Regions from separate parts of the Homo sapiens genome. Here all the other regions are linked to region 2. Evidence: fine-mapped expression QTL. A gene starts in region 2. Each other region holds a variant in brackets. All regions are shown on one strand. Distances are between the middles of the regions.

The links.
Region 1: its variant is fine-mapped to the expression of KMT5A in whole blood (TOPMed, PIP 0.98).
Region 3: its variant is fine-mapped to the expression of KMT5A in whole blood (INTERVAL, PIP above 0.99).

What each region holds. Positions count from the first base shown.
Region 1 is chr12:123,405,562-123,416,091 of GRCh38, forward strand. KMT5A (lysine methyltransferase 5A) reads left to right here. Exons shown (of 8, transcript NM_020382.7): 8 at 1,932-3,792. The coding sequence ends at 2,142. It overlaps RILPL2 (Rab interacting lysosomal protein like 2), which reads right to left. Exons shown (of 4, transcript NM_145058.3): 4 at 9,478-10,360. The coding sequence ends at 10,330. Among named protein-coding and RNA genes, the nearest start is that of RILPL2, 26 kb to the right of the region's middle. The variant A/T (reference allele first, on the strand shown) is at 5,155.
Region 2 is chr12:123,378,544-123,389,073 of GRCh38, forward strand. It overlaps KMT5A (lysine methyltransferase 5A), which reads left to right and starts at 5,589. Exons shown (of 8, transcript NM_020382.7): 1 at 5,589-5,665. The coding sequence starts at 5,656. RefSeq lists silencers at 4,560-4,782, 5,710-5,879, 10,231-10,530 and enhancers at 4,747-5,477, 5,000-5,219, 6,060-6,219.
Region 3 is chr12:123,320,730-123,331,259 of GRCh38, forward strand. It overlaps SBNO1 (strawberry notch homolog 1), which reads right to left. Exons shown (of 32, transcript NM_001167856.3): 8 at 10,513-10,530; 9 at 9,690-9,780; 10 at 8,005-8,166; 11 at 7,163-7,298; 12 at 6,978-7,083; 13 at 6,697-6,850; 14 at 5,423-5,605; 15 at 4,773-4,870; 16 at 2,951-3,102; 17 at 806-1,003; 18 at 1-137. Among named protein-coding and RNA genes, the nearest start is that of MIR8072, 39 kb to the right of the region's middle. The variant G/A (reference allele first, on the strand shown) is at 5,597.

The sequences.
Region 1 (10,530 bases), 27 kb after region 2:
CAAGCTGGAGTGCAGTGGCACAATCTTGGCTCACTGCAACCTCCACCTCCCGGGTTCAAGGTATTCTGTCTCAGCCTCCCACGTAACTGGGATTACAGGTGTGCGTCACCACGCCCAGCTAATTCTTATATATTTTTTTAGTAGAGACAGGGTTTCATTATGTTGGCCAGGCTGGTCTGACCTCATATGGTCTGCCTGCCTTAGCCTCCCAAAGTTCTGGGATTACAGATGTGAGCCACTGCGCCTGGCCCCAGCTTCCCTTTTTTTTTTTCTTTTGAGACGGAGTCTCGTTCTGTCACCCAGGCTGGAGTGCAGTGGTGCAATCTTGGCTTACTGCAACCTCCACCTCCCAGGTTCAAGCGATTCTCCTGCCTCAGCCTCCTGAGTAGCTGGGACTACACACACATGCCACCATGCCTGGCTAATTTTTTGTATTTTTAGTAGAGATGGAGTTTCACTGTGTTAGCCAGGATGGTCTCAATCTCCTAACCTTGTGACCTGCCCACCTTGGCCTCCCAAAGTGCTGGGATTACAGGCATGAGCCACTGTGGCCCCAGCTTCCCATTTTTAATCTTTGGAATTGGAGCTGTCCTGGATGTTATCTCATCCAAGGGGAGAAGTGGGCTAGTCACATGAAAACCTGTTAAGCAGCTCACCTGGCTCTCCTTCAGGGCATTTGGCCAGAGCAGCTCTGGAAATCACTAATTGATCTTGCCTGGCTAGGACCAGTGGAGTTGAATTTTTTATTTTTTATTTTATTTTATTTTTTTGAGATGGAGTTTCACTCTTGTTGTCCAGGCAGGAGTGCAGTGGCACGATCTTGGCTCACTGCAACTTCCACTTCCGAAGTTTAAGCAATTCTCCTGCCTCAGCCTCCCAAGTAACTGGGATTACAGGCATGCGCCACCACGCCCAGCTAATTTTGTATTTTTAGCACAGACAGCGTTTCACCATGGTGGCCAGGCTGGTTTTGAAATCCTGACCTCAGGTAATCCACCCGCCTCAGCCTCCGAAAGTGCTGGGATTACAGGCGTGAGCCACCGCGCCTGGCGGGGTTGATTTTTTTAATCCATTTATTTTGTGAAACTCTACCATTTCCTCCTGTGCCTCCATAAAGAGCCCTTTGGGTCCTACCCCATCCCCCCACCCAGGGCCTGTGCAGGCTCTCAAAAATAGCTTTGTGGGCCAGGCGTGGTAGCTCATGCCTGTGATCCCAGCACTTTGGGTGGCCGAGGTGGATGGATCATGAAGGTCAGGAGCTCCAGACCAACATGGCAAAACCCCATCTCTACTAAAAATACAAAAAAATTAGCCTGGCATGGTGGCACACGCTTCTAATCCCAGTGACTCAGGAGGCTGAGGCAGAATTGCCTTACCCCGGGAGGCAGAGGTTGCAGTGAGCTGAGATCGTGCCACTGCACTCCAGCCTGGGCGACAGAGCGACGAGACTCCCTCTCAAAAAAAAAAAAAAAAAAAAAAAAGCTTTGCAAATTGAGCCAGACCTGGTGGCTCGTGCTTGTAATCTCAAAAACTCAGGAGGCCAAGGCCAGAGGATCACTTGAGCCCAGGGGTTGGAGACCAGCCTGAGCAATATAGGGAGATCTTGTCTCTACAGAAACAATTAAAAATTAGCCTGATGTGGTGGCATGTACCTGTGGTCAAAGCTACTCGGGAGGCTGAGGTAGGAGGATGACTTGAGCCCGGGAGGTGGAGGCTGCAGTGAGCCGTGATCGTGCCACTGCACTCCAGCCTGGGTTACGGAGCGAGACCCCCTCTAAAAAGGAAAAAGAAAATAGCTTTATGAATTGAATCTTTTCAAAACACATGGCTTTAAATCAGCATCCCACCAGAGCTGAGCACAAGTGTGACTCTCTTCAGGTTGAAAAGCCTCTTTATCCATTTAATCCTCTCTGGCCCTCCTTCCCCTCCAGCGTGGATGCAACTAGAGAGACAAATCGCCTAGGAAGACTGATCAATCACAGCAAATGTGGGAACTGCCAAACCAAACTGCACGACATCGACGGCGTACCTCACCTCATCCTCATCGCCTCCCGAGACATCGCGGCTGGGGAGGAGCTCCTGTATGACTATGGGGACCGCAGCAAGGCTTCCATTGAAGCCCACCCGTGGCTGAAGCATTAACCGGTGGGCCCCGTGCCCTCCCCGCCCCACTTTCCCTTCTTCAAAGGACAAAGTGCCCTCAAAGGGAATTGAATTTTTTTTTTACACACTTAATCTTAGCGGATTACTTCAGATGTTTTTAAAAAGTATATTAAGATGCCTTTTCACTGTAGTATTTAAATATCTGTTACAGGTTTCCAAGGTGGACTTGAACAGATGGCCTTATATTACCAAAACTTTTATATTCTAGTTGTTTTTGTACTTTTTTTGCATACAAGCCGAACGTTTGTGCTTCCCGTGCATGCAGTCAAAGACTCAGCACAGGTTTTAGAGGAAATAGTCAAACATGAACTAGGAAGCCAGGTGAGTCTCCTTTCTCCAGTGGAAGAGCCGGGACCTTCCCCCTGCACCCCCGACATCCAGGGACGGGGTGTGAGGAAGACGCTGCCTCCCAATGGCCTGGACGGGATGTTTCCAAGCTCTTGTTCCCCTAACGTCTCAACAGGCGCTCACTGAAGTGTATGAATATTTTTTAAAAAGGTTTTTGCAGTAAGCTAGTCTTCCCCTCTGCTTTCTCGAAAGCTTACTGAGCCCCGGGCCCCAAGCACGGGCCGGGCATAGATTTCCTCTTCCACAAGCTGCCGCTTTTCTGGGCACCTTGAAGCATCAGGGCGTGAAATCAAACTAGATGTGGGCAGGGAGAGGGTTGCTTACCTGCCCTGCTGGGGCAGGGTTTCCTGAAACTGGGTTAATTCTTTATAGAAATGTGAACACTGAATTTATTTTAAAAAATAATAATAAAAATTTAAAAAAATTAAAAATAAAAAAAACCACAGAAAACAACTTTACATGTATATAGGTCTTGAAGTGAGTGAAGTGGCTGCTTTTTTTTTTTTTTTTTTTTGCTTTTTTTTGCTTTTTGTAGAAGAGATTGAGAATGGTACTCTAATCAAAAATAAAGTTTTGTAGTGGGACCAGAAATTACTTACCTGACATCCACCCCCATTCCCCCTCATCCTGCTGGGGTTGAAAGTTCCAGACCTGCTGTCGAGGCCTTGTGTTTGTCAGACACCCAGTGTCCTCCTGCAAGGACGCAACTGTGAGCTGAGGTGTGAGCCTAGGAGCCCAGGACCCCTGACCCCGGCCGCTGCTGCCAGCCTCAGAAAGGCACCCAGGTGTGCAGGGGAGCACACAGGGCCCGGCAGCCCCCAGGAATCAAGGATAGGGCTAAGGTTTTCACCTTAACTGTGAAGGCAGGAGGAATAGGTGACTGCTTCCTCCCGCCCTTCACAGAACTGATTCTCACACACTGTCCCTTCAGTCCAGGGGGCCGGGGCTCAGGAGCCATGACCTGGTGTCTCCTGCCCACCCTGGTCCCAGGTAAATGTGAATGGAGACAGGTATGAGAGGCTGTCCTCGTCTTTGATTCCCCCCCAACCCCACCTCGGGCCTCACGACGGTGCTACCTAAGAAAGTCTTCCCTCCCACCCCCCGCTAGCCTGGTCAGTGGTCAGCAAATTGGAAGAGGATCCGATGGGAGTGTAAATGTGAGACACAATGTCTTGATTATACCTGTTTGTGGTTTAGCTTTGTATTTAAACAAGGAAATAAACTTGAAAATTATTTGTCATCATAAAAATGAAACAAATTAAAATATTTATTGCCAGGCAAGGCCACGTGTGTGTCTTTCTGTTTTTACAATTTGACTGTGTCACACCAGCATGTCTAAGCTTTGGTAAGCATCCTCCTGGGGAACCAGAAAAGCTTACTGACGTGATTTTGAGCGTGTTTCCCAGAACTCTGAGCTCTTTCGTTTCCTCATCTGTATACTGGGGACCATAGGGTATGTGAAGATTAAAAGTTAATGCTTTTTTTTTTTTTTTTGAGACAGTCTCTGTTACCTAGGCTGGAGTTCAGTGGGGCAGTCTCAGCTCACTGCAACCTCCAACCTCCACCTCCTTGGTTCAAGCAATTCTCGTACCTTGGCTACCTGAATAGCTGGGATTACAGGCATGCACCACCACACCTGGCCTTTTTTTTTTTTTTTTTTTTTTTTTTTTTTGAGATGGAATTTCACTCTGTTGCCCAGGTGGGAGTGCAGTGGCATGATCTGGGCTCACTGCAACCTCTACCTCCCAGGTTCAAGCAATTCTGCCTCAGCCTCCCAAGTAGCTGGGATTACAGGCGCCAGCCACCACACCCAGCTAATTTTTTTGTATTTTTAGTAGAGACGGTCTTTCACCATGTTGACCAGGCTGGTTTCGAACTCCTGACCTCAAGTGATCTGCCCGCCTTGGCCTCCCAAACTGCTAGGATTACAGGCGTGAGCCACTGCACCCGGCCACAGTAGAGACAGGGTTTCACCGTGTTGGCCAGGCTGGTCTCAAACTCCTGACCTTAATGATCCACCCGCCTCGGCCTCCCAAAATGCTGGGATTATAGGCATGAGCCACCACGCCCAGCTTAAAAGTTAATGCATTTTGAGCCTTAGAACAATGGCACATAGTAAGCATCATAAACTTTAGCTGATGTAATTGTCATTGCGACTTATAATTTACTAGACTTGATGATTCTCAGGAGGCTCTGAATCATCACTGCACCTGTCTTGGGCTGGAAGTCCCTATTACCAGCCCAGATCCCTGTCCCCTCCATGCTTGGGCACTGGTGGTAGATTGGAACAGTGAGTAGAGCCCTTGGCTTAGATGCAAAAGATCCAGTTCCAGCATCAGTTTTAAGTGTTTGTCAGCCGTGTGACATTGGTCAAGTCACTTCCCCTCTCTGAAACTTGTCTCAAATAGGGATAATCTCTGCCCACTTGACTTGCCTCCTCCCCCAAAGATTCAGGCATCAGTATTATAGCTTCACCTTGGAGGGGACATGTGGCTGCTGGAACAGAACCTCTGCTTCCAATCCACTGCTGTGTAACTTGGGCAGGTACGTAGTCTCCTTGTGCGTCAGTTTCCCTCCCTGTAACATGGAGACAGTAATAATACTTGTACAGGGTGATTGTGAGGATTTAATGAGTTAATACAA[A/T]AAAAAAAAAAACAACACTTGGAACAGTGCCTTGCACATAGCCTTCAGTAATCAGTATTAGCTATTATTAGAATTAAAAATTTGGCTAGCTTCTATTCAGTGTTTACAAGTACTCAGGACTAATAGCTAATAAGTGCCTCCAAGTTCTGATATGTAGTTGCTATATTTATTTGTTCATTTTACTTTTTGTAGAGATAGGGTCTCACTATGTTGCCCAAGCTAGTCTCAAACCCCTGGCCTCAAGCGATCCTCATGCCTCACCCTCCCACAGGGCTGTGATTACAGGCATGCGTGAGCCACTGTGCCTGACTTATTTTTATTTATTTATTTATTTTTTTTTTGAGATGGAGTCTTGGTCTGTCTGTCGCCCAGGCTGGAGTGCAGTGGTGCAATCTCAGCTCACTGAAACCTCCACCTCCCGGGTTCAAGCGATTCTCCTGCCTCAACCTCCTGAGTAGCTAGGATTACAGGCGTGCATCACCACACCCAGCTAATTTTTGTATTTTTAGTAGAGACGAGGTTTCACCATGTTGGCCAGGCTGGTCTCCTGACCTCGTGATCTGCCCATCTCCCAAAGTGCTAGGATTACAGATGTGAGCCACCGCGCCCAGCCCTATTTGTTCATTGTAAAAGATGACTGCTGGCCAGGCACGGTAATCCCTGTAATCCCACCACTTTGGGAGGGCGAGGCAGGCGGATTATGAGGTCAGGAGCTGAGATCCTGCCACTGCACTCCGGCCTGGGCGACAGAGCGAGACTCTGTCTCAAATAAATAAAATAAAAGATGATTGCTACAGCAACCACCTCCTGTGCCTTCTGAGACTTGGCTTGAAAACCTTTTTTTTTTTTTTTTTTTTTTTGAGACGGAGTCTCATTCTGTCGCCCAGGCTGGAGTGCAGTGGCATGAACTCAGCTCACTGCAACCTCTGCCATCCAGGTTCAAGCAATTCCCCTGCCTTGGCCTCCTGAATAGCTAATTTTTGTATTTTTAGTAGAGACAGGGTTTCACCTTCTTGGCCAGGCTGGTCTCGAACTCCTGACCTTGTGATCCACCCACCTCGGCCTCCCAAAGTGCTAGGATTACAAGCATGAGCCACTGCACCCGGCGAAAACCTACTTCTGAGCCTGTTCCTCCCCGGTCTAGGTTTGTAGTTGGAATCCTGCAGTGTGAGAACCGCCAGAGCTCAGCTGACGTCACAGCTCTGTTACCTGTTGTCAAGCTAGGCCCATCTCTAGGAGAATCACCCCAAGGACTTATTTTCCAAAATGCCCACCTGCCAGCATCAGATTTTACCAAGAGTTGCAGTCCAAGCATTTCTCACCGTAACTTTTTTTAGTCTCCTGGGGTACCACAGCCACCCAGGCCATCTTAACCTTTCTTTCTGAGTGGGTTCTCTTACCCTATCTATCCCCACAGGGAGGCAGGGGAGCATTTATATATTTGGAGACAGGGTCTCACTCTGTCACCCAGGCTGGAGTGTAGTGGTGTGATCATAGCTCACTGCAGCCTCAAACTCCCGGGCTCAATTAATCTTCCCGCCTCAGCCTCCCCAGGAGCTGGGACTACAGGTGCTCACCACCATGCCTGGCTAATTTTTTGTTTTTTGTAAAGATAGGTTCTTACTATGTTGCCTAGGCTGGTCTCGAACTCCTGGGCTCAAGCAATCCTCTCACCTTGGCCTCCAAAAGTGCTGGAATTACAGGCTTGAACCACTATGCCTGGCCAGGGTTGCAGTGTTACACAGGGTTCTAGGGATTAGGAGCCCTGATCTAATGATGCTGTTGAGACAGTGTTCTGGACTAGACTCTTAAACACTACCAGCTCTTCCTGGAAGGCAGAGTGGTTGAAGCCTGTGTGTGGACTTTGTATCTGGGCTCAAGTCCTGCTTCTACCACTTTCTAGCTGAGGACCTTAGACAAGACTTTTCACCCATTATGCCTTAACCTCCTTGGGAGGACCCCAAGGACAATAGTGATACCCATCCCACAAAAGTATGTGAGACAGCATCGGAAAGGTACTTAGAATGATGCAGGCGAGGCATACAGTAAATTATTACTATTATTAGGACTTGCCAGTGACTCTGGACCCATAAAGCTTGGCAGCTCCGCGCCCGGGCCTTGGAATCAGGCCTGCATTTGCCTCCTGGGCAAGCTGCTTCCTAGCTCCACAGCCAGAGTTTCAGTTTCTAAACCTATAAACTGGCCGGGCACGGTGACTCACGCCTGTAATCCCAGCACTTTGGGAGGCCGAGGAGGGCGGATCATGAGGTCAGGAGTTCGAGACCAGCCTGGCCAATATGGTGAAACCCCGTCTCTACAAAAATACAAAAATTAACCCAGTGTGGTGGCATATACCTATAGTCCCAGCTAGTCGGGAGGCTGAGGCAGGAGCATCGCTTGAATCTGGGAGGCAGAGATTGCAGTGAACCCAGATGGTGCCACTGCACTCCAGCCTGGGCGATAGAGCAAGACTCCGTCCCCACCACCCCCCAAAAAAAAGCCGGGTGCGGTGGCTCACGCCTGTAATCCCAGTGTGTCCGGAATTGGTGGGTTCTTGGTCTCACTGACTTCAAGAATGAAGCCGCGGACCCTCGCGGTGAGTGTTACAGTTCTTAAAGGTGGCGTGTCCAGAGTTTGTTCCTTCTGATGTTCAGATGTGTTCGGAGTTTCTTCCTTCTGGTGGGTTCGTGATCTCGCTGGCTCAGGAGTGAAGCTGCAGACCTTCGTGGTGAGTGTTACAGCTCTTAAGGCGGCGCGTCTGGAGTTGCTCGTTCCTCCTGGTGGGCTCCTGGTCTCCCTAGCTTCAGGAGTGAAGCTGCAGACCTTCGGGGTGAGTATTACAGCTCATAAAAGCAGTGTGGACCCAAAGAGTAAGCAGTAGTAAGATTTATTGCAAAGAACAAAAGAACAAAGCTTCCACAATGCGGAAAGGAACCCGAGCGGGTTGCCACTGCTGCCTGGGGCAGCCTGCTTTTATTCTCTTATCTGGCCCCACCCACATCCTGCTGATTGGTAGAGCCAAGTGGTCTGTTTTGACAGGGCGCTGATTGGTGCGTTTACAATCCCTGATCTAGACACAAAGGTTCTCCACGTCCCCACCAGATTAGCTAGATACAGAGTGTGGACACAAAGGTTCTCCAAGGCCCCACCAGAGTAGCTAGATACAGAATGTCGATTGGTGCATTCACAAACCCTGAGCTAGACACAGGGTGCTGATTGGTGTGTTCACAAACCTTGAGCTAGATACAGAGTGCCGATTGGTGTATTTACAATCCCTGAGCTAGACACAAAGGTTCTCCACGTCCCCAGCAGACTCAGGAGCCCAGCTGGCTTCACCCAGTGGATCCCGCACCGGGGCTGCAGATGGAGCTGCCTGCCAGTCCCGTGCCCTGTGCCTGCACTCCTCAACCCTTGGGTCGTTGATGGGACTGGACACCATGGAGCAGGGGGTGGGGCTCGTGGAGGAGGCTTGGGCCGCACAGGAGCCCACGGAGGGGGTGGGAGGCTCAGGCATGGCGGGCTGCAGGTCCCGAGCCCTGCCCCACGGGAAGGCAGCTAAGGCCCGGCGAGAAATCGAGCGCAGCGCCGGTGGGCTGGCACTGCTGGGGGACCCAGCACACCCTCAGCAGCCGCTGGCCCGGGTGCTAAGCCCCTCATTGCCCGGAGCCGGCAGGGCCCGCCAGCTGCTCCGAGTGCGGGGCCCACCAAGCCCACGCCCACCCGGAACTCCAGCTGGCCCGCAAGCGCCCCGCGCAGCCCCGGTTCCCGCTCGCGCCTCTCCCTCCACACCTCCCTGCAAGCTGAGGGAGCGGGCTCCGGCCTTGGCCAGCCCAGAAAGGGGCTCCCACAGTGCAGCGGTGGGCTGAAGGGCTCCTCAAGTGCCGCCAAAGTGGGAGCCCAGGCAGAGGAGGCGCCGAGAGCGAGCGAGGGCTGTGAGGACTGCCAGCACGCTGTCACCTCTCACCAGCACTTTGGGAGGCTGAGGCGGGTGGATCACGAGGTCAGGAGATCGAGACCATCCTGGCTAACACGGCGAAACCCTGTCTCTACTAAAAATACAAAAAAATTAGACGAGTGTGGTGGCAAGTGCCTGTAGTCCCAGCTACTCAGGAGGCTGAGGCAAGAGAATGGCGTGAACGTAGGCAGCAGAGCTTGTAGTGAGCCGAGATCGTGCCACTGCACTCCAGACTGTGCGACAGAGCGAGAGACTCCGTCTCAAAAAAAAAAAAAAAAAAAATCTATAAACTGGTGCACCGGTACCGGTCCCCATCTCCCCAGGTTATGAGGAACAAATGAGATAATCCACAGAGCAGGCGAAACACATTGAGTAAGCCACTGTTATTTACTAAGAAGACAGGCTCACGGAATGGTTGCGGCAGCCTCATTAGTTCCTTTGCGAAGTGCAGACACCCGCTCTCTGTTTCATTGATTCCTAAATGCATTTTGTTCACATCTTAACACCTCTGAAATCAGGATGAGTCCTAAAATCGATAGCTTCTTAACATTTTAGTTTGCAGCAATCTTTCCCTTCATAGTGACACCAGATAATCGTGCATCGCTTAGACTGAATGAATGCAATTGATTCATTATACAATGAAATGTAGATATATGACATATACACACATATACCATGTGTACCATCGTAACTAAGAGACCACTCTAGATAAGCTATAGAAAGTATAAAAATCATTTTACTTTAATACAAAATCACATAAAGAAAGGCATGTTGGCTAAATCAAATATTCACTAAATATCAGTGAAGTCACCACTGGAATCTCAATAGCACATTTTCCTGCTTTCTTTTCTCCCTTCTGCTAACCATTGAAGACCAGGGTCATCCGTGGGAGCAGATGAGTAGGACACGCGTCTGCACGCTGGAGGCCCTGGGGGTTGACATGGGAGCAGGAAGTGGACCCCCCCACCCTGCACATCCCTTCTGTTTTTCTTGATTTCAGTCTCACTGGCCCAGGCCAAATCTTCAAGGGTGTCTAGTTCTGCAGCCAGGGAGAAAGTGATGCCAAGAGAACCTCGTCTCCTCCCTCCTCAGTCTGCTTTGAAGGGGAAATAAATACACAGGCCTAGTGTGTCTGTGTGGCACAGGGAGGTGGTTTTGCCAGGCATCTTGGAAGGTTGTCTTCTAGAATCAGAGCCATAGCCTTACTTGTGGCCTTGGATCTAGGTCTGTTTCCCCGATCGAAAAAAGAACCTGGTGTGGAGAGAGAGAGGGTTCAGGGTAAGCAGAAGGAACAAAGCAAGGGGCACAGCAACCCCCGTAAAATTTCTAAGTAGCTCTTGCAGCTGTTGACTCAAAAATATGTCCAGGCCAGGCATTGTGGCTCACGCCTGTAATCCTATGATTTTGGGAAGCTGAGGCAA
Region 2 (10,530 bases):
TGTATTTTTCGTAGAGACTGGGTTTCGCCATGTTGGCCAGGCTGGTCTCGAACTCCCAACCTCAAGTCATATTCCTGCCTGGGCCTCCCAAAGTGCTGGGGTTACAGGCATGAGCCACCACGCCCAGTGTCGATAATTATAATTTATGTACTCTTTGCAATAAATTAGTATTCAGATTTACAATCTATGAATCTACCCTTTGCTTAAAACCATTTAGTGGCTTTCCATTGGACTGGAGTAAAAATATAAGTCTTACTAGTGCCCTTCTGTAAGTCAGCATCCAGTTAGGAAAACAGAGAGGTTAAAATAGGAAATTCATTAAACGGGTGACAGAGGACTGAGAAGGCAGAAAGGGAACACCGAGGCAATGTAAATAACAACTAGAGGAAGCAGCTACCACCTCCAAAGCTGGAGATAAAAATAAAAACAAGTTGGGGTTAGCACAGCTAGCAAAATCGGAGGAAGAGCCCCGGAGAGCTCGTTCTCACCCCTCTAAGAAAGAGGCACATAGCCAGGCGCTGTGATTCATGCCTGTAATCCCAGCACTTTCAGAGGCAGAGGTGGGCGGATCACTTGAGGTCAGGAGTTCGAGACCAGCCTGGCCAACATGGCAAAACCCTGTCTCTACTAAAAATACAAAAAATTAGCCTGATGTGGTGGTGCATGCCGGCAATTCCAGCTATGTGGGAGGCTGAGGCAGGAGAATCGTTTGAACCCAGAAGGCAGAGGTTGCAGTGAGCTGAGATTGTGCCACTGGGGTGACAGAGCGAGACTCTGTCTCAAAAAAAAAGACAGAAAGAAAAAAAGAAAGAGGCACAACCAGATTGGTGCTGGGCCTCCCAGAGCCCTGTGTAGTTGGGACTCAAAACTCTGAGGAGGGGTCTGCTGTTGGTGCCTCCGCGGGAGCACAAGGAGGCTGTCTCTGGGAGTGTACAAAGAACCTGGAGACTGAACCAAATACTACTGCCAGAGGCAGTGTTATTACTGAGGGGAACATGCTAGGAATAGTAAGCAAACAGGCAAGAACAAGTCCCCTCTCTTCCTCCTGCCTCCCAGACTGCTTCTATCTGCTCTCATTGGAAGAACCTAACATTAACTGAGAACGGGGAATTATGGTTTGCTGCTCTGTATCACAGAACAGGGTAGAAATGTGGATATTACCCAGGCTGATCTCAAACTTATGAGATCAAGCGATACACCTGCCACGGACTCCCAAAGTGCTGGGATTACAAGCATAAGCCACCAGGCCTGGCCTGCCTTTTTTCCTTATAGCATTAATCACTATTTATAATGATCTTTTGGGCTGGGAGCAGTGGCTCATGCCTGTAGTCCTAGCAATTTGGAAGGCCAAGGTGGGCAGATCACTTGAGGTCAGGAGTTTGAGACCAGCCTGGCCAACATGGCAAAACCCCACCTCTACTAAAAATACAAAAATTAGCTGGGTGTGGTGGCGGGTGCCTGTAATCCCAGCTATCTGGGAGGCTGAGGCAGGAGAATCGCTTGAACCCGGGAGGCGGAGGTTGTGGTGAGCCAAGATCCTGCCACTTCACTCCAGCTTGGGCGATAGAGCAAGACTCTGTCTCAAAAAATAAATAGGCCGGGTGCGGTGGCTCACCCCTGTAATCCCAGCACTTTGGGAGGCCGAGGTGGACTGATCATCACCTGAGGTCAGGAGTTTGAGACCAGCCTGACCAACATGGAGAAACCCTTGTCTCTACTAAAAATACAAAATTAGCTGGGTATCGTGGCGCATGCCTGTAATCCCAGCTACTCGGGAGGTTGAGGCAGGAGAATCGCTTGAACCTGGGAGGTGGAGGTTGCGGTGAGCCGAGATTGTGCCATTGCACTCCAGCCTGGGCAACAAGAGTGAAACTCTGTCTCAAAAAATAAATAAATAAAATAAATAAATTAATTAAATTAAATAATCTTTTGGATGGGCGTGTGGCTCACGCCTGTAGTCCCAACACTTCGGGAGGCCAAGGCAGGTAGATCATTTGAGGTCAGGAATTCAAGACCAGCCTGGCCAACGTGGTGAAACCCCTTCTCTACCAAAAATACAAAAATATGCCCGGGCGCGGTGGCTCACGCCTGTAAGGCAAGCGCTTTGGGAGGCTGAGGCGGGTGGATCACTTGAGGCCAGGAGTTCAAGACTAGCCTGGGGAGCATGGTGGAACCCCGTCTCTACTAAAAATACAAAAAAGAAATAGCTGGGTGTTTTGGCGCATGCCTATAATCCCAGCTACTCGGGAGGCTGAGGCAGGAGAATTGCTTGAACCTAGGAGGCAGAGGTTGCAGTGAGCCGAGATCACGCCATTGCACTCCAGCCTGGGTGACAGAGCGAGACTCCGTCTCAAAAAAAAAAAAATAGGTGGGCATGATGGCACACTCTTGTAATCCCAACTACTTGGGAGGCTGAGGCAGGAGAATTGCTTGAGCCCAGGAGGTGGAGGTTGCAGTGAGTCGAGAACGTGCCCCTGCACTCTAGCCTGGATGACAGAATGCGACCCTGTCTTAAAAAATAAATAAAATAAAAATAATCTTTTAGGCTAGGGGTGGTGGGCTCATGCCTGTAATCCTAGCACTTTGGAAGGCTGAGGCAGCTGGATCACATGATGCCAGGAGTTTGAGACCAGACTGGCCAACATGGAGAAACACTATCTCTATTAAAAATACAAAAATTGGGCTGAGCGCAGTGGGTCACGCCTGTAATCCCAGCACTTTGGGAGGCTGAGGCCGTCATATCAATTGAGGTTAGGAGTTCGAATCCAGCCTGGCCAACATGGTGAAACCCCATCTCTACTAAAAATACAAAAATTAGCCAGCCATGGTAGTGGGCGCCTATAATTCCAGCTACTCAGAATGCTGAGGCAGGAGAATTGCTTGAGCCCAGGAGGCAGATGTTGCAGTGAGCCGAGATCAAACCACTGCACTCCAGCCTAGGGAGACAGAGAGAGACTCCGTCTCAAGAAAAATAAAAATAAATAAACAAAATGATCTTTTTTTTCTTTTTTCTCTTTTTTTTTTTTTGAGATGGAGTCTCTCTTTGTCGCCTAGGCTGGAGTGCAGTGGCGTGATCTCGGCTCACTGCAAGCTCTGCCTCAGCCTCCCGAGTAGCTGGGACTCCAGGTGCCTGCCACCACGCCCGGCTAATTTTTTTTTTTTTGTATTTTTAGTAGAGATGGGGTTTCACCGTGTTAGCCAGGATGGTCTCGATCTTCTGACCTGGTGATCCGCCCACCTCAGCCTCCCAAAGTGCTGGGATTACAGGTGTGAGTCACCACACCCAGCCTTAAAATTATCTTTTAAATAATGCCTTGTTTCTTCCCTAAAAGAATGCAGGGAAGGAGCTGTGTCTACTTTCCCTTCGGATCCTTGGGGGATCCAAAACAGCGGCAGGCATAGAGCTCAATAAATGTTGAAATAATCAATTTTGGAGAAAGCAAACACCTCTCTCTCTATATATATTTTTTGTTTGTTTGTTTGTTTGTTTTGAGACAGAGTCTCGCTCTGGTGCCCAGGCTGGATTGCAGTGGGACGATCTTGGCTCACTGCAACCTCTGCCTCCCGGGTTCAAGCACTTCTCCGCCTCAGCCTCCTGAGTAGTGAGATTACAGGCACGCACCACCACGCCTGGCTAATTTTTGTATTTTTAGTAGAAACGGGGTTTTCACCATGTTGGTCAGGCTGGTCTTGAATTCCTGACCTCGTGATCCACCTGCCTCGGCCTCCCAGAGTGCTGGGATTACAGGTGAGAGCCACTGCACACTGCCACACTTCCACATATTTATGGAAGCTGTAAGGCATGTTGGAGATTACGGCACCAGCTCCTTCATTTGACAGGTAGGGAAATGGAAGGCCAGAGAGCTGAACTGATGTGCCAAGTGACACAGTGACTTTGTGACAAAAGTGTCCTTTTCTACCTTTCCCAGTGCTTTCACATATATCATTTTATTTTCCTTTCCTATTTTCCTGGTGCTTTGGAAGAGTCTTTGGGCAATGGTTGGGTCTCCAAAACCTTTTCAATTACCAAAGAGACAGGATGGATTAGTGACCTCGTCCCACACCCCTGGGAGGGGCCCCAGGGAAGAGCAGTAGTAACTGGACGCCTTCCCTGAGTCCAAAGCAGACACTCCAGGACACCTGATTCTCTGGGAACATACTGACTGAGCCCCCTCTCTCAGAGGGGAACAGCGAATACTTGCTTCCCTCGGGATAAGGTAGCCATTTAGTGTTTGAACAGTGGAGAGACTGACCCAGGCCCTGCAATTACATTGCTGGGTGACCTTGGGCAGCGCGTAAGTGACCCGCTTCCTCTATTGCCCCATCTGTAAAATGGGTGGGTGTGAAGCATTAGGATCTTTGCGGTCCTGGAAGGACCTTCCCTACTGACCCAGTTAGTTGGTAGGAGTTGTGTCTGTGGGTTTTTTTTTTTTTCTTTTTTTGAGACGGAGTCTCGTTCTGTCGCCCAGGCTGGAGTGCAGCGGCGTGATCTCGGCTCACTGCAAGCTCTGTCTCCCGGGTTCACGCCATTGTCCTGCCTCGGCCTCCCAGGTAGCTGGGACTACAGGCGCCCGCCACCACGCCCGGCTCATTTTTTTTGTATTTTTAGTAGAGACGGGGTTTCACCGTGTTAGCCAGGATGGTCTCGATCTCCTGACCTCGTAATCCACCCGCCTCGGCCTCCCAAAGTGCTGAGATTACAGGCGTGAGCCACCGCGCCCGGCCGGGTTTTGAATACTGGAATATTCAATAAACCTTTTTTTTTTTTTTTTTTTTTGAGACAGTGTTTCGCTCTTGTTGCCCAGGCTGGAGTGCAATGGCGCGATCTCGGCTCACCGTAACCTCTGCCTCCCGAGTAGCTGGGATTACATGCTATTCTCCGGCCTCAGCCTCCCGAGTAGCTGGGATTACATGCATGCGATACCACGCCCGGCTAATTTTGTATTTTTAGTAGAGACTGGGTTTCTCTATATTGGTCAGGCTGGTCTCGAACCACGGACCTCAGGTGATCCGCCCGCCTCAGCCTCCCAAAGTGCTGGGATTACAGGCATGAGCCACCGCGCCCGGCCAAAACCTTTCAAACCTGAGAATGAATGGATCAAACTGCTGGAGAGGTCGGTGTGCTGGAGTTGCTAAACTGCTGGGAGACTCAGGTTTCCCAGCTCTTAAGGGAAGATCGAGGGGTCAAAGGTCGGGTTCCGGTCAAGCCCACAGAGAACCGGAAGTCCCAGATCCGGTCGGCTCGGAGCCCAGGGCTCCAGCCGGGCTACTCACGCTCCGGAGGCGGAGCTTCAGCAGCGGGAGGGGGAGGAATCTGGGGCCTCCCAATGGCAGCTCGGGTGTCTTCCATCGCAGCCATTCAACGTCTGGCGACGGTCAAATTTAAACACCCCTCCCACCTCCTCCGCCGGGACCTGTCGGGAAAGCGTTTGCAGTTATTGCGGCGGCTGGACACGCCCCGCCGCCGAAGAGGCGGGAGAAGGGCGGGGCCTTTCTCCGAGTTGGCCTATCACTACGGGCAGCCTGCGGAGAGGCGGGAGGCGGCGCCAATCGGGGCGAGCAGCTGGAGCCCGGCGGAGCAGTTGGCTGAGTTGTTGCAACTTTTTTCGAAAGCTGGGTTTCCCGGGAGATCCCAGGCGGTGACAGAGTGGAGCCATGGCTAGAGGTATTTGCCCAAGTGGCCGGCACCGGAGCGGCTGGGTCGGGGGTCGTGCTGGAGGGGTTGCCGGGGTGGAGGCAGCGGCTGCGGGGAGGCGTCCTCCTCGGGTGGCTCGGGGCAAGCTTGGGGACCCGCGTGGGGGGAGAGGGGGTGCTGCTGCGGAACCCGCCGGCCCCCCCTTGCGGCTCCAGATGCCCCCAGAAACCCTTCCCACTGCCGTGCTTCTGTTTCCCTTCTATGAAGTGAACACCTGCGGGCCTGCCTCTCCACGGCAGCAGATCCATATGTCAGAGCTCTTTGGAAACTAAAGCGCAGGGCACCTCCAGGGAATAGGTGTTATTGATAGAAGTGGGGCGGGGGCAGGAGTGAGGCTTCGCCCACTTTGGGGCCCTCTCTCTTTGGGAAAGGAGGTGATCCCGAGGCGAAGGCGCAGATCGATAACCTGCATATTGGGGTGCGCGTCAGGGTGGACACCGCAGCAGGCGCCTTTCCTCCCTCCCCACGTCCTGAGTCAGCTCTGCGCCGCTGGAGCGAAGGCCGGGCCCCGCTGGCCCACTTTGGGGTAAAACGGGTTCCTGGCATCTCGCGGGCGCGGTCGTTCGCCCCGCATCTGGTCAGGACTTCGCCCCCCGGTAGATGGCTTGGGTGGGCTTGTACAGCCCTGGGAGGCGATGCCCTGTCTGAAGTCCTCTGCATACTTAGTTGGCTGTCAGGACAGTGCCTCCCAGGTATGCGGCAAAGAGATCTCCAACCGCTTGGTCATTTCCAGCCACTGCGTCTCCTTCACGCCAAAGGGCCAAAAACTTGAGCGTGAAAGTTGAGTAGAATTAGTATTAAAAAAAAAAAAAAGTTTTGGTATTATATTTTTCTCAAAATTTCAAGGCTTCAAGTGTTAGTAGGAATTTGCTTTAGTGCAGTATGCTCCCTATAGCAATAATAATGAATAAAATAATGATTCATTCAGTAAATATCTATTGGGTCCCTTTGTTTTCAGGCCCTGAAGTCAGTTGCATCATCTATTCTCCTAGCATCCCTAGAGGTTCTTTTGGGATAAGACTTACCCAGAGCCTGATGAAAAAATGAGGCATAGTAAACTTCAGGTTAAAGAGCTTCATCACTCAACTCTTGGAGAAAATTAATACTAATATTTTTCCTTTGAAAAGTGTTAAGCATCTAAAAGTATATTTAACATTATCTGACTAATTTATCTGACAAATTTTAATAAAACTATGCTTCCTGGGTTCATTTTTCTCATCACAGCAAAATCATTTAAACTACTTGTTTTAAAAGTAGTGCATTAATTAATATATGAAGAAAACTAACCATCTATCATTGAAATACTTAAAATATGACTAAATAATAATTATGGCCAGGCATGGTGGCTCACACCTGTAATCCTAGCACTTTGGGAGGCCAAGGCGGGCAGATCACCTGAGGTCGGGAGTTCGAGACCAGTCTGACCAACATGGAGAAATCCCGTCTCTACTAAAAATACAAAATTAGCCGGGCATGGCAGCGCATGCCTGTAATCCCAGCTACTTGGGAGGCTGAGGCAGGGAGAATTGCCTGAACCTGGGAGGTGGAGCTTGCAGTGAGCCGAGATTACGTCACCGCACTCCAGCATGGGCAACAGAGCAAGACTCCATCTCAAAAAAACAAACAAGAACAATAACAAAATAATAATAATTACCACTGAGGGCCAGGCACTTTATTAACTCAATTGATCTTTACAAATTGTTATTCTCATTTTTTGGAAGAGGAAGCGTGAAGTCCAAACTTGCTGTCCAGACTCTAGCTTGGCTGGGTCTTTGCTTGTGCCACCCAACCTCCCTTACTTACCCAAAGCGAAGATAATGTTTGTCAGCTCCTCCCATGGCAGCTTACAAATCACCTATGTAATTATTAGTTATTGATTCTCACTGTCTCACTTGACCCCCAAATTAGTAGTTACCTGTTTCTTAGGCTTTACTGCCCTTGCAAGCTATTAAATTGGATATTTAGATTTAGATTTTTTTTTTTTTTTTTTTTTTTGAGACAGAGTCTCTCTCTGTCACCCAGGCTGGAGTACAGTGGAGTGATTTCAGCCCGCTTCACCCTCCCTCTCCTGTGTTCAAGTGATTCTTGTGCCTCAGCTTCCCAAGTAGCTGGGATTACAGGCACCTGTCACCACACCCAGCTAATTTTTGTATTTTTAGTAGAGACGGGGTTTCGCCATGTTGGCCAGGCTAGTCTTGAACTCCTGACCTCAGGTTATCTGCCCACCTCGGCCTCCCAGAGTGCTGGGATTACAGGCAAAAGCCACCACGCCTGGCCAATATTTAGAATTGTAAATACCAAATCATTTACAGCACTTCAAATGAACAGTCTTTTTCTTCTAGAAAATTGGGCTTTGAACTTGCAATTCACTTTGAGAGCCCTGCTGGGTCACAGAAACAAACTGGTCAGATGCCAGGCAACACCTCACTCATTTTGAAGTTTTATAATCATGCAAATATTTACAACCCCAATATATTAGTCTCAGGGGTCAGTCCACCTACCTTTCACTATTTCTACTGCCATTGTTGAATGGTCTCTTGGTTGGTTGCCCTCCTCATTTTGCCATCTTCAGTTCATTATCCCTTAGCACCTGGTGGGGGGGTCTCCAAAAATACAGACTTTTCTTTTTTTTTGGGAGACAGAGTCTCACTCTGTCACCCAGGATAGAGTGCAGTGGCACAATCTTGGCTCACTGCAAACTCCACCCCCCTGGGTTCAAGTGACTCTCCTGCCTCAGCCTCCCAAGTAGCTGGGATTACAGGCATGCGCAACCACGCCAAGCTAATTTTTGTATTTTTAGTAGAGACGGGGTTTCGCCATGTTGGCCAGGCTGGTCTCAAACTCCTGATTTCAGGTGATTTGCCCTCCTCTGCCTCCCAAGGTGCTGGGATTACAGGTGTGAGCCACTGCGCCCAGCTGGTGTATTTGTTATATACGTATAAACTTGCGGAGAAAGGACTGTTTTGAAACTTACATTGAATGATCTGTATTTACATCTTCTAGGTACTGGAGCTGCAGAATTGAGAGGAATAGGTGCTAGACTTGTAATGTGTCCCCTGCAATTGGGGGCTCAAATGCAGAGAAAGCTATGACCATGAGTGGGGCGTGGGGTGTGGCTCGGTATACTAGAATGTGAAATGGATAAGATGATCTATGTGGGTGCTTCCTGCTCCAAAACCATGATTCTCATGGCAGTTAAGCTGCAAAACTTCTCTGCCTTGCAGAAATAGAAGACGCTTTCAAATGGCTCAACCTGGTTATCAGAGTGTCACTTTCGAATCCTCTTTCACCCTCTGGGTAATCTTTTGGATATTCAACTGTAGTAGGCTCTGCAGAGGGCATAGGCAGAGTACCTAGCCCACTGGAGTTAGTGGTTGGGCTGGAGACCCTGCCTTGAAGGATGCTAAAGCATGAGCTGATTTGGGAGGGATTGTCTGAGCAGTGACCTGTCACCACCTAATCCTACTCAGTCTTATCCGTTCCAATGGGAGTCGAGGGAGGCTAGGTGGGAGGATGGCTACAAACAGCCATTTGCTTATCTGTGGATGTTGGAAGGTGCTCTGGTGGATTATGGAATTCAAGGTTCTTGGTTTTTACCCATGAGGACACTGAGGCCCAGACTGGGGAAGTGACTTGGCGATGGTCACAAAACACCTCTGGGCAGATGCAGGGAAATAAGTCCAGCCCCTGACTCCCAGGCCATGGGCCAGGCTGCAGGAGCTGGATGCCTTGAAGTGTCTTGTTTGCATCTATGACTTTGCACAAATACAGTGAATCTGGCTGTGGGCCCTCAAGCCTTAATGGCCACAGAGTAGTGGTGCAGGGCAGTGAGCTATGCTGAAACAGCCACCAGAGTGACGGGAACCTCGTCTGCCTATGGGGGCATTTTCTCACGGCGGGATAGGAGAACAAGGTGACATGTTAAACCCTTCTGCAAGACCATTTGCTTCTCCCAAACTCCATTTCCTCATCTGTAACCAGGAAGGGTAGTGGCTGGGAGGGCAAGGCCCTGGGGTCAGTTGGCTGGGGCTGAAAACCCATCTAGTTCTGAGAACTTGGCCAAGCTCCTCACTTTCTCCATCTGTTGAAAAGAGATAATAATGGTGTCTACCTTTGCAGGGCTGCTGTGAGGTTTCAGTGAGATAACGGCAAGAGACTCGCCCAGGAAACCGATCATTATAACCCCTGGCTCTGTCTCCCCAGGGCTTCCTACCGGTCAAGTACAGCCCTTCTGGGTTTGACACCTGGCCCCATCACTTCCTAGTTCTGTGGCCCGGGACAAACCCCTGCACATCCCTTGAGTCACAGTGTCACCATTGTAAGCTGGGATGCCGACAGGACCTGCCCCCGTGGGCGTGCGGGGAGGATTCAATGCCTGTGAAACTCTCGGTGGGCACAGCGCCGGGCACACCCGAGGGCCTGGCCTGGCGCGTTCACCGCTGCTGATTTCGTCTGGCACAGACCGGGTTCCCAAAATATCCGCAGAGCCAGCGGAAAAAGGAGCCGGGCGGGCTGGCGGGAGGGCGGGCGGGAGCCTGGGCTGTCATGACGGTGTTTCCCACCCCTTCCTCCGCGAGTGGCTGAGGCCGCGCGAGAGGGGGCGCGCCCGAGCCGGGATTCGCCGCGCCCGCCCGCCCGCCCTCCGGAGCGGCCTGGCGGCGCCGCCCCTACCAGCCCCCTCCCCGGGCCGGGCGCCGGACGGTGGGCGGCTGCGAGCGGGCGGGAGGGCTGCGGAGGACGCGCCGCCTGCGCCTCCTTCCCTTCGTGCCTCGCCCCGGGCGGCCCGGGGCTGCCGCGGTGCGCGGGTGCCGGGCCCTGCCTCGCCGGCCATGGGG
Region 3 (10,530 bases), 58 kb before region 2:
TGGTGTAGATGAAAAACTAGGTCGTTTTGATCCAAGACCTGATGCTAATAAGGCACTTTGAATAGAATCTGGATCTATACTTTTCTTCTTTTTTTTCTCTTTGTTTTTCTTGTGGTCTTTTCTAATTAACCAGGGATCTGAGTGTTAAGGAAAGATACATGTCAAATCATTTGTTAAAACAAGTACAGAATCTTCAAAGGAAACAACCTTTGAAATTTTATTTTTTTGAGACAATGTTTCGCTGTTGTAGCCCAGGCTGGAGTGCAATGGCGCAATCTCAGCTTACTGCAATCTCCACCTCCTGGGTTCAAGCGATTCTCCTGCCTCAGCCTCCTGAGTAGCTGGGATTACAGGTATGTGCCACCACACCTGGCTAATTTTGTATTTTTAGTAGAGATGGGGTTTTTCCACGTTGGTCAGGCTGATCTCGAACTCCCAGCCTCAGGTGATCCACCCACCTTAGCCTCCCAAATTGCTGGGATTACAGGCATGAGCCACCGCGCCTGGATGAAATTTTTTATATTGTTAACTGATAACTTATCACCACCTACATTGGTTCATCCATACACCATGGGGTACAAATCCATGTTTTCAAGTTAAAAATAACTGCACAAAATTGAGGTTATCTTCTCACATATATGAGGCTCAAACTTCCAGAAGGTAGATAAGCCTGGAGCTTTCCACCAAGCAAAGATTATAATCTGTGTGATCATTTGTACTGTACAGAAGAAAAGGTTTCATATCCCATTTTCAAATATACTGAAATATTATATGCTTTCGTGTATATTTAATATACTGAACTTACCATTTTCATCATCCTCATTAGACTCATCTAAAAATGGGTTGAAATCGTCATCATCTCCAGAACTCATGTTTTTAGAGCTCTCATAGTCACTTTCTTCATTATCAGAGGCATCAGATTCACTTCCACTGTCGTCAGAACTGCTACCAGTAAGGCCACCTACTTTTCGTGCTTTTTTGGCTTCTCGAGTTATTTCTTCACCTACCCTCCGCCACAAACAAGAGAGTCAGCCCAAATTCAATGTTTCTTAAGATCCAGTACATCACATTTAGTTCATGAATTAATTCAAATGAAAAGTGCAGAGGAAAAGTATTTAGGTTAAGTCAAAAAACAAACAGAATTCACAAACCAGCACTAACCTTTTGGACTCCCATAAAAAATAAGGTTATAAACATTTATTCTGAAGAAGAAATTGGATACAAAAGTACTAAGTCAAGACTGCCTTCAAGTGCACAAGTTTCAAAACATATTCAGGACAACAGAGTAAAAGCAGAACCTCTGGCATAGTCACAATTTGACTGTGTATCAGATTTGAGAAGAGGCCTAATAATTACAGGTTTATAGACATGGAATACTTAGAAAATCAATAGAAAATCAATTTATAAAACCTTTTTATTTTTGGAGACAGGGCCTCACTGTTGCCCAGGCTGGAGTGCAGTGGCACAATCATAGCTCACTGCAGCCTCGACTTCCCTGGCTCATGTGATCCTCCCACCTCAGCCTCCCAAGTACCTGGGACTACAGGCACATGCAACCATGACCAGATATTTTTTTTTTTTCCCCAGACAGTGTCTACTCTGTCTCCCAGGCTAAAGTGCAGTGGCATAATCTTGGCTCACTGCAACCTCTGCCTCCCGAGTTCAAGTGATTCTAATGCCTCAGCCTCCCTTATAGCTGGGATTATAAGGCGCCCCTGCCGCCAGTCCTGGCTAAGTTTTTAATTTTTAGTAGAGAAGGGGTTTCGCCATGTTGGCCAGGCTGGTCTCGAACTCCTGACCTCAGGTGATCCGCCTGTTTCAACTCCCAAAAAGCTGGGATTACAGGCGTGAGCCACTGTGCCCGGCGAGAAGTCAACTTCTAAAACCAAAACAGGGCTGGGCGAGATGGCTCACACCTGTAATCCCAGCACTTTGGGAGGCCTAGGTGGGTGCATTGCTTAAGCTCAGGAGTTTGAGACCAGCCTGGCCAACATGGTGAAACCCCATCTCTACTAAAAATACAAAAATTAGCAGGGCGTGGTGGTGCATGCCTGTAATCCCAGCTCCTTGAACCCAGGAGGCAGAGGTTGCAGTGAGCCAAGATGGTACCACTGCACTCCAGCCTGGGTGACGGAGACGGAGACCCTGTCTCAAAAAAAAAAAAGAAAAAAAAAGAAAAGGCTCTTTTAAAGAAAACTACTGAAACACCCAGCTGTCTATATATTAAAGAACAGGTCTGACAATACAAAGACACAGGTTTTAGTTCCCATGCATCATTAACTATCTCTGTGAAACTAGGAAAACTCTTTAATCTTTAAATCTTTCTGTGCTTCAATGATCTCTGTCTATAAAATTGGAAAAATAAGACCTAATTTCGTATGGACCTCTGCCAGGTTATATGGTAGAATGTATATAGCCAAGTGCTTAACACACTGCCAACCACCAGTGAATTGCTCAATTCCTAATTTAAAACGGGGATAACTTGTGCATTCAAAATTGTACAAGTGACAGTGAAAATTTGGAACCATTTGTGAATTCATGGAAGGCAGTTCATTCCCAAAATATAGCCACTTTAAAATGCTTATGTTTTAATTTCAACAGTATTTTCAACGTCAACTATTTTCTTTTTTCTTTTTCTTTTTTGAGACAGAGTCTCGCTCTGTCATCCAGGCTGGAGTGCAGCAGCGCTATCTCGGCTCACTGCAAGCTCTGCCTCCTGGGTTCACGACATTCTCCTGCCTCAGCCTCCCGAGTAGCTGGGACTATAGGTGCCCACCACGATGCCCGGCTAATTTTTTGTATTTTCAGTAGAGATGGGGTTTCACCGTGTTAGCCAGGATGGTCTCGATCTCCTGACCTCGTGATCTGCCCACCTCAGCCTCCCAAAGTGCTGGGATTACAGGTGTGAGCCACCGCACCTGGCCTATTTTTTCTTTTTTAAAGTGCTCACCTTTCCGCTTCTTTATTTTATTTTCTTTACAAGGACTATCTCTTGGCGAACTGTTGTTACTTGGAGCTGTCAAATCGATTCCTAGTAAACTATAAAGTTTTTTCCTGTCTGGAGCAGGAAAATGTTTTTCAATGAGTGACTGCAACACACCTCTGTAGGAGAGAAACAGTGACAATTACTGCTTCAGTTGACAAAATAATTATATGTAAAGTATTATTAAATATATTGAAATATACTTTGTTCAGTTTTACAAAATACTGATAAACGAGCTCAAATAAATTTTAATTTTCTAGCCCAAAGCTGTCCAACTAAATAATAAGAATGCAAGCCAAACCACATACACAATTATTGTATTTTCTGGTAGCTTAAATTAAAAAAGTAAAAAATAAATAAAACTGGTGGAACTAATTTTAATAATACATTTTAACTCAATATACCATGTCAACACATATGTTTTATGTTATTTTCTCTTAAGGAGTCTTTGAAACCTGGCTCAGTACACATATAATAACATCTCAATATGGACCAGTCATTTCAACTGCTCAATAGCCACATGTGACAAGCGGCTGCCATTCTGGACACGGTAGTTCTAGGCAATTATGTACAGAAAAATATAGATTAGCAGGTGTATGTCTTGCTTTTTTCTTTTTTTTTTTTTTTTTGAGACCGAGTCTCTCTGTCACCCAGGCTGGAGTGCAATGGTGCCATCTCAGCTCACTGCAACCTCCGCCGCCTGGGTTCAAGCAATTCTCCTGCCTCAGCCTCTCCAGTAGCTGGGATTACAGGTGCCCGCCACCACGCCTGGCTAGTTTTTGTATTTTTAGTAGAGACGAGGTTTCACCGTGTTGGCCAGGCTGGTCTCAAACTCCTGAGCTCTCGTGATCCACCAGACTCAGCCTCCCAAAGTGCCTGGATTACAGGCGTGAGCCCCATGTATTGCTTTTGAAAGGAGCATCTGAATGCATCCCGAGGCACAAAATAGTAGAGCAGCAAGTTTATTTTGCTCAGTTTACTACCAGAGTTTGAATGTGGAGGTTAGGCAAACTAAAAACAATGCCTAAAACATTTTAAAATCTATTTCTGAAGATCTCATGCTTATTTTCAACTTTTAAAGTAGACTTTATTTTATTTTATTTTTTTTTGAGACAGGGTCTCACTCTGCCGCCCAGAGGGGAGTGGAGTGGAGTGGTGCGATCTTGGCTCACTGCAACCTCCACCTCACGGGTTCAATGGATTCTCCTGCCTCAGCCTCCCAGGTAGGTGGGACTACAGGACGTGTGCCACCATGCCCAACTAATTTTTTTTATTTTTAGTTGAGATGGGGTTTCACCATTTTGGCCAGGCTGGTCTCAAACTACTGACCTCAAGTGATGTGCCCATGTTGGCCTCCCAAAGTGCTGAGATTACAGCTGTGAGCCACCATGCTCAGCCAACTTATAAAGTAGACTTCGTTATATTAGGACAAACTATAGTTACTGTTCCTGTGGATAACGGTAATTTCAAATACAGTACACTAAAACTGAATCTAAGCCAAGCTGTCACAGATTTCCAAGATGTACAAGATAAACAAAGTCTAGCCCTTCTGTTAGTTCACATACTCTGTGTAATATTAGCAAAATGCTTAACATTTTAGGATTATGAGATTTCTGTTATTGTTTTCCAATAGATACACTGTTACAGAAAAGCAGAAAACTCAGATCAAGAAAACTTAAAGATGATGCAGGTGAAACAAAAGTTTTGTCTCCAGGAAATGCCCACATTGGAACTAAGGTAAGGAAGAACTCAAAAAGAAACAAAAACATTAAAAGAACAAAAACATTACTTGGCAGTTGAAACAAAATCATTCAATTCTCCCCCGCCCTCTTCCAAAGCTTCTAATGTTCTAGCTTCTCCTGTAGACTGCAGACCAATTACAACACACTGGAGAAAAAAGAAAACATGTTAATTATGAATAATAATGTTTGTGGCTTCTTACCAAGACATATTTTAAACATTTAGCTAAACAAAGATTTCAAACAAGAATGTCCTCATTATTATAAAACACAAATTTGTTTTACTTATTTCTTCTACATATTTGAGACAGGTTATTTGTCAAAAATTTAGGCAGGAGATAGGATTACAGACAGTAGTAAGCATGAGTGAAGCCCCTGCCCTTGTACAGTTTATAGTATCTTATGCTTTAAGTAGATAAATATTCACCGAAAAGAAAAAACCTTAACGCAATACACATCCATATGTTACCAGTGCTACCAGCTATGGATGACCAATTATAGTGATGTTTACTTTGTTATACTTTTCTGAACTCTCTAAATTCTCTAAGCAGGCATTGCTTTTATAATTTTAAGAAATGTATTTTTTAGAAGTTTTACTATCCTTTAGGAAAACCAGATTTTACAAGCAGAAAACCTCAGCACCCACAAAGACTAAACAACATAACCCCCAAACAATCTCTTAATGAGTTCTTCTACTTACTTTTCCATTCTTGATTTCCTCTCGAGCTAGTTGCACAACCCTTTTAACTTTGGATGCTATGCATAAGTATTTGAAGAACCTCTGGTGAGCAGACCAGAACTGACCCCACATGGACTTCTTCATTCGTTGCTCAGCATCAATCAGATCTGCAGCTTGCTGAAACCGCTCTCTGGC[G/A]ATGACCCACTGAAGATACATAATCAACATTTCAGACACTTCATCTTTGAGTCTAGTTATTTAAAAATACCAATTAAATCAAAACAATGTTAAGTGCAAGACCATTTAATATTAATTTAATAAATCATCTTTAGTAACTTGGGAATCTATTTCTCAGGATACTCACACAGTTGTCTCAAGTTTCTTATTACCTAATGCAGTCATTTTAGAAAATAATGTGATTTTAAGAACTATGCAACTGAAATAAATGGCTATAACTTATGAATTACCTTAACAAAATGAAAACATGGACAATCTGAAATATAAGAACATTGGTTAGGCCAGGCGCAGTGGCTGATGCCTGTAATCCCAGCACTTTGGGAGGCTGAGGCAGGTGGATTGCTTGAGCCCAGGAGTTCCAGATCAGGCTGGGCAACACTGTAAAACCTCATCTCTACCAAAAAATACAAAAATCAGCCAGGCACATTGACATGCGCCTGCAGTCCCTGATACTCAGGAGGCAGAGTCTGGAGGACTCCTTGAACCTGGGAGGTAGAGGTTGCAGTAAGCCAAGATCACACCACTGTACTCCAGTCTGGGTGACAGAGTAAGACCCTGCTTCAATTAAAAACAAAAACAAAAAAAAACACATTGGTTAAACAGCCTATCATCTGGTAACTCATCTGTTTGTTTTTGTTTTTTGTTTTTGTTTTTGTTTTGCGATGGAGTATCCCTCTGTTACCCAAGCTGGAGTGCACTGGCACCATCTTGGCTCACAGCAACCTCCGCCTCCTGGGTTCAAGCGATTCTCCTGCCTCAGCCTCCCCAAGTAGCTGGCACTACAGGCGCACACCACCATGCCCAGCTAATTTTTTTTCGTATTTTTAGTAGAGATGAGGTTTCAACATGTAGGCCAGGCTGGTCTTGAACTCTTGACCTCAGGTGACCTGCTCGCCTCAGCCTCCCAAAGTGCTGAGGCATGAGACACCGTGCCTGGCTTCATCTGTTGTTTTATAGTAGAAATACATTCCCATGGGCAGGAGGCATCGCAATCGCCAAAACTAACAGAAACATTATCAGATACATTAAATAAACACTAGGAATTAAGAAAAATTCCTCACCAGCTTGACAGCTTTGTTATACATTTTAACGTAGCTCTGAGAAAGAAGAACTTCCTCAATTTTGAAGGTCACTCCAGTAAAGCTCAGTTGTCGAGCAATGTACATTCCTCTAAGCTTCATATCCATAGCAACTATTTCCATGGCACCAACTCCTCTGAATAAAATTAAAACATACAGTAATTACCAATACAGTAGAATTTTAACATACAGAGAATGGGCTTTAGGAATAACACACTTCTTAGATTGCTACTGAGAAGAGTATATACCGTAAACTGCATTACCTCCGTTCTACTGCTTGAATAAAATCACTGAATTCTCTAAATGGAGTACCCTCACCCCATATGCCAAGACGGTTCATATAGGCCATGTTGCGTGGTTCAGAAGCACCTGAAAATCCCACAAATGAAATATATTATAGTTGAAAAAATAACCTACAATATATATTTTTAAATAAATAAATACTCACCAGTTGCACTAGCATAAACAACTCTGGCTTTTGGCAATTTGTTCTGAAGCTCTAAAACTGCTAAGCCTGTCTTGGTTGGCTTTGAAGAACCAACAGGACATAAGTTTTTGGCTTTATGACACTCATCAAACACTATCTAAATGGAATGAGTTAAGGAATGTATCACATTAGTATTAAGTAAGAATCTCCAGTCTTTCAAGAAGAGTTAACTTTTATTTCCCTGAGGCCTTCTGATTGCCTATTTCATGACTGCAAATACAAAGGAAGTCCTATGGGCCTTTCCCCAGTTACATCCTCCTCCCTCTCTAGCCTCAAAGACATTCACTGAATTTGGAATTTAAACCAGCAATTTGCCTCTAAATTAAAACAGAGAAAAGAACCCACTGCAGCAAGAAGTTGTTATCTGGTAACTTGTAAAAGTAGAAGCATGATTGGTAACCAACTTAATCAGCATTTCAAAAAGTGATGTTCCTCATGCAGGACAGTTAAAAGATATACTGTGAACAAGTTTGGGACCACTAAGTTCTAACAGTTTTCTTTCACTTAGTCTTCTCGGGTATTCTGCTATGTAAATATGCAATGTTAATCCTCAAAAGGGGAATACAGTATTCAGTATTCCTCATATCTATTAACATTTTTCTAAACCAGGAGATTAAACATTGGTCTCCTATCTGACAGGTAAAAAACCGAATCAACTTTCCAATCCCTTTGGACTCTAGGTAATCATTAAAGTTTTCACTCCAGCAACTCGTTTAATCTCAAGATTCCTGTTTCCCAAAGGTCTACCCTTTTATAATTTTCTTGTCGTTAAAAAATAGAAAAATATTTGCCATAAAGGATACCACTCCATCGAAGTCATCACCGCACCAATGCAGAAGTTGTTTTAACCTAGTTTTATACTTGCCGCCAGACTGGCTTTCACCAATAAGTGAAGAGTAAGTAGCAAAAATAACACCCTTTTTCACACTCCCATTATGTTTGGAAGAAATTTTTCCGTATTTAAACTAAAAAAGAAAAGAAAAGAATTTAGTTAATTAGTATACCTTTCTCTCTGCAACATTCATCCCAACTAAACATTCACAAGCAGGAACTCTTGTTAGGCCCATGACAGGCTTCAGAAAACATAAAAGTACAGAGACGCAAATTTATTTGTATAAATGTACACAACACAAACACACAACTTTATAGTACAAAAATCCAGTTTTTGGTAGGACACAGTGGCTCACACCTGTAATCCCAACACTTTGGGAGGTCAAGGTGGGTGGATCGCTTGAGCTCAGGAGTTCCAAGACCAGCCTGGCCAACATAGTGAAACCCCATCCCTACAAAAAATACAAAAATTAGCCAGGCATCGTGGTGCGTGTCTGCAGTCCCAGCTACCACAGGGGCTGAGGTGGGAGAACTGCTTGAGCCTGGGAGATGGAGGTTGCAGTGAGCCGAGATTGTGCCACTGCACTTCAGCCTGGGCAACAGAGCTGAGATCTTTTTTTTTTTTTTTTAAATCCAGTTTTCAAAGTCTTAAAAACTTTTATCATCACAAAAAAAAACATTAAAAACCAGACAAACTTCCCTATAAGAATAAAAAGTCACAATTTACAAACATTTATTGTGCACTTACTATATGCAAAACACTGTGATTAATTTCTGATACATAAGAATTATGAGTAATTGTTAATGTGCCTTTCTAATACTACTCTGAAATTTAAAAAAAAAATTCTAGATGCCACTTACATCCTTTTAGTTCTGAATTGTATACAGTCATTCAAGACACAGTACTTTATAGCTACAAATCCACCCAGTAAAACCCACCCTAACAAGCCACTGTTTAGGGCAACACTGAATTCAACTTAGGACTCACATGGGAAGTAGAGGTGCAGTTACTTATTTTCAAAGGGCTACTAGGGAGGCCCTTCCAGGAACCCTATCAGTCTATTTTAACCTTATAGCACCAACAATTGGTGCATGCATAGTAAGTCAATAAAGATTTGCTAACTGAACCTTAACATTCTAAAACACACTGGCACACATTGTCTTTCAGCTTACAGAATTGTTTTCATGTGAGCAGAGGTATGAGTAACTCAAGTCCATTAGCTGTACAAATACTGAAACCAGTCTGCCCAAGCCATAACTATCTACATCGCATATGATTTGGTGACCTATAGTGCAAGGTATGCCACCTGTCTAAACTGCACCCTTATGGCATATAAACTATAAAAGAAAGATAAAAATAACACTGAAAATTGAGAGAATCAACTGGTGTGCACTGTACACTTGAGAGCACATCTCAATTTGGACTGGTCACTTACACTGTTCAATAGCCACATGTGATGAGTGGCTACTGCCTGTCAGTGTTTAGCATATAGGAATCCACAAACCAACAATAGTGGCTAGCACTCACTATGCTTTCTGTGGAGTAACATCAAAGTTTTCCAAAAAGTGTCCCCTTATATACATAGCTATTATTATTGTCATCTCACAGATGAGTCAATATTTATTGAATGACCAACTGAATAAAAAGATTTCATACCTTATTTAACGAATGAACCAAAATGTTTTTTGCTCCAATATCCCTTAAATCTCTTTCAGCATCATACTTTAAGTCATTTGAAACACTAAACCTGCCAAAATATTAAAAAGCACAAATTAAATACAAATTATATCATTCTAGAATTCAGGAATAAAATTAATAAAGCCAGGTCTTGACACTTAAAAAAAAAAAAAAAAAGAAAAAGAAAATACACTTACTCATTAAAACACCATCCCACTGAGTGCAGTGGCTCACACCCATAATCCTAGCACTTTGGGAGCCTAAGGCAGGAGGACTGCTTGAGCCCAGGAGTTCGAGACCAGCCTGAGCAACACAAGAAGAGCCCGTATCTACAAAAAATTAGCCAAGCATGGTAGTGCATGCCTGTAGTCCCAGCTACTCAAGAGGCTGAGGCAGAACTGCTTGAGCCCCTGAGGTAGAGGCTGCAGTGAGCCATGAATATGCCACAGCACTCCAGCCTGGGTGACAAAGATCCTGTCTAGATGGGGAAGGCGGATCCCATCCCCACATGCTAAAGTAATTACTAACAAAACCTTCCATTGAGACGGAGTCGCACTCTGTCACCCAGGCTGGAGTGCAGAGGAACAATGTCGGCTCACTGCAAGCTATGCCTCCAGGGTTCACGCCATTCTCCTGCCTCAGCCTCCTGAGTAGCTGGGACTACAGGAACCCACCATGACGACCGGCTGATTTTTTGTACTTTTAGTAGAGACGGAGTTTCACTGTGTTAGCCAGGATGGTCTCGATCTCCTAACCTCGTGATCCGCTGCGCCTGGCCCACAGCCAGTTTTTAAACACTTACCACAATGCTCGTTTTCTA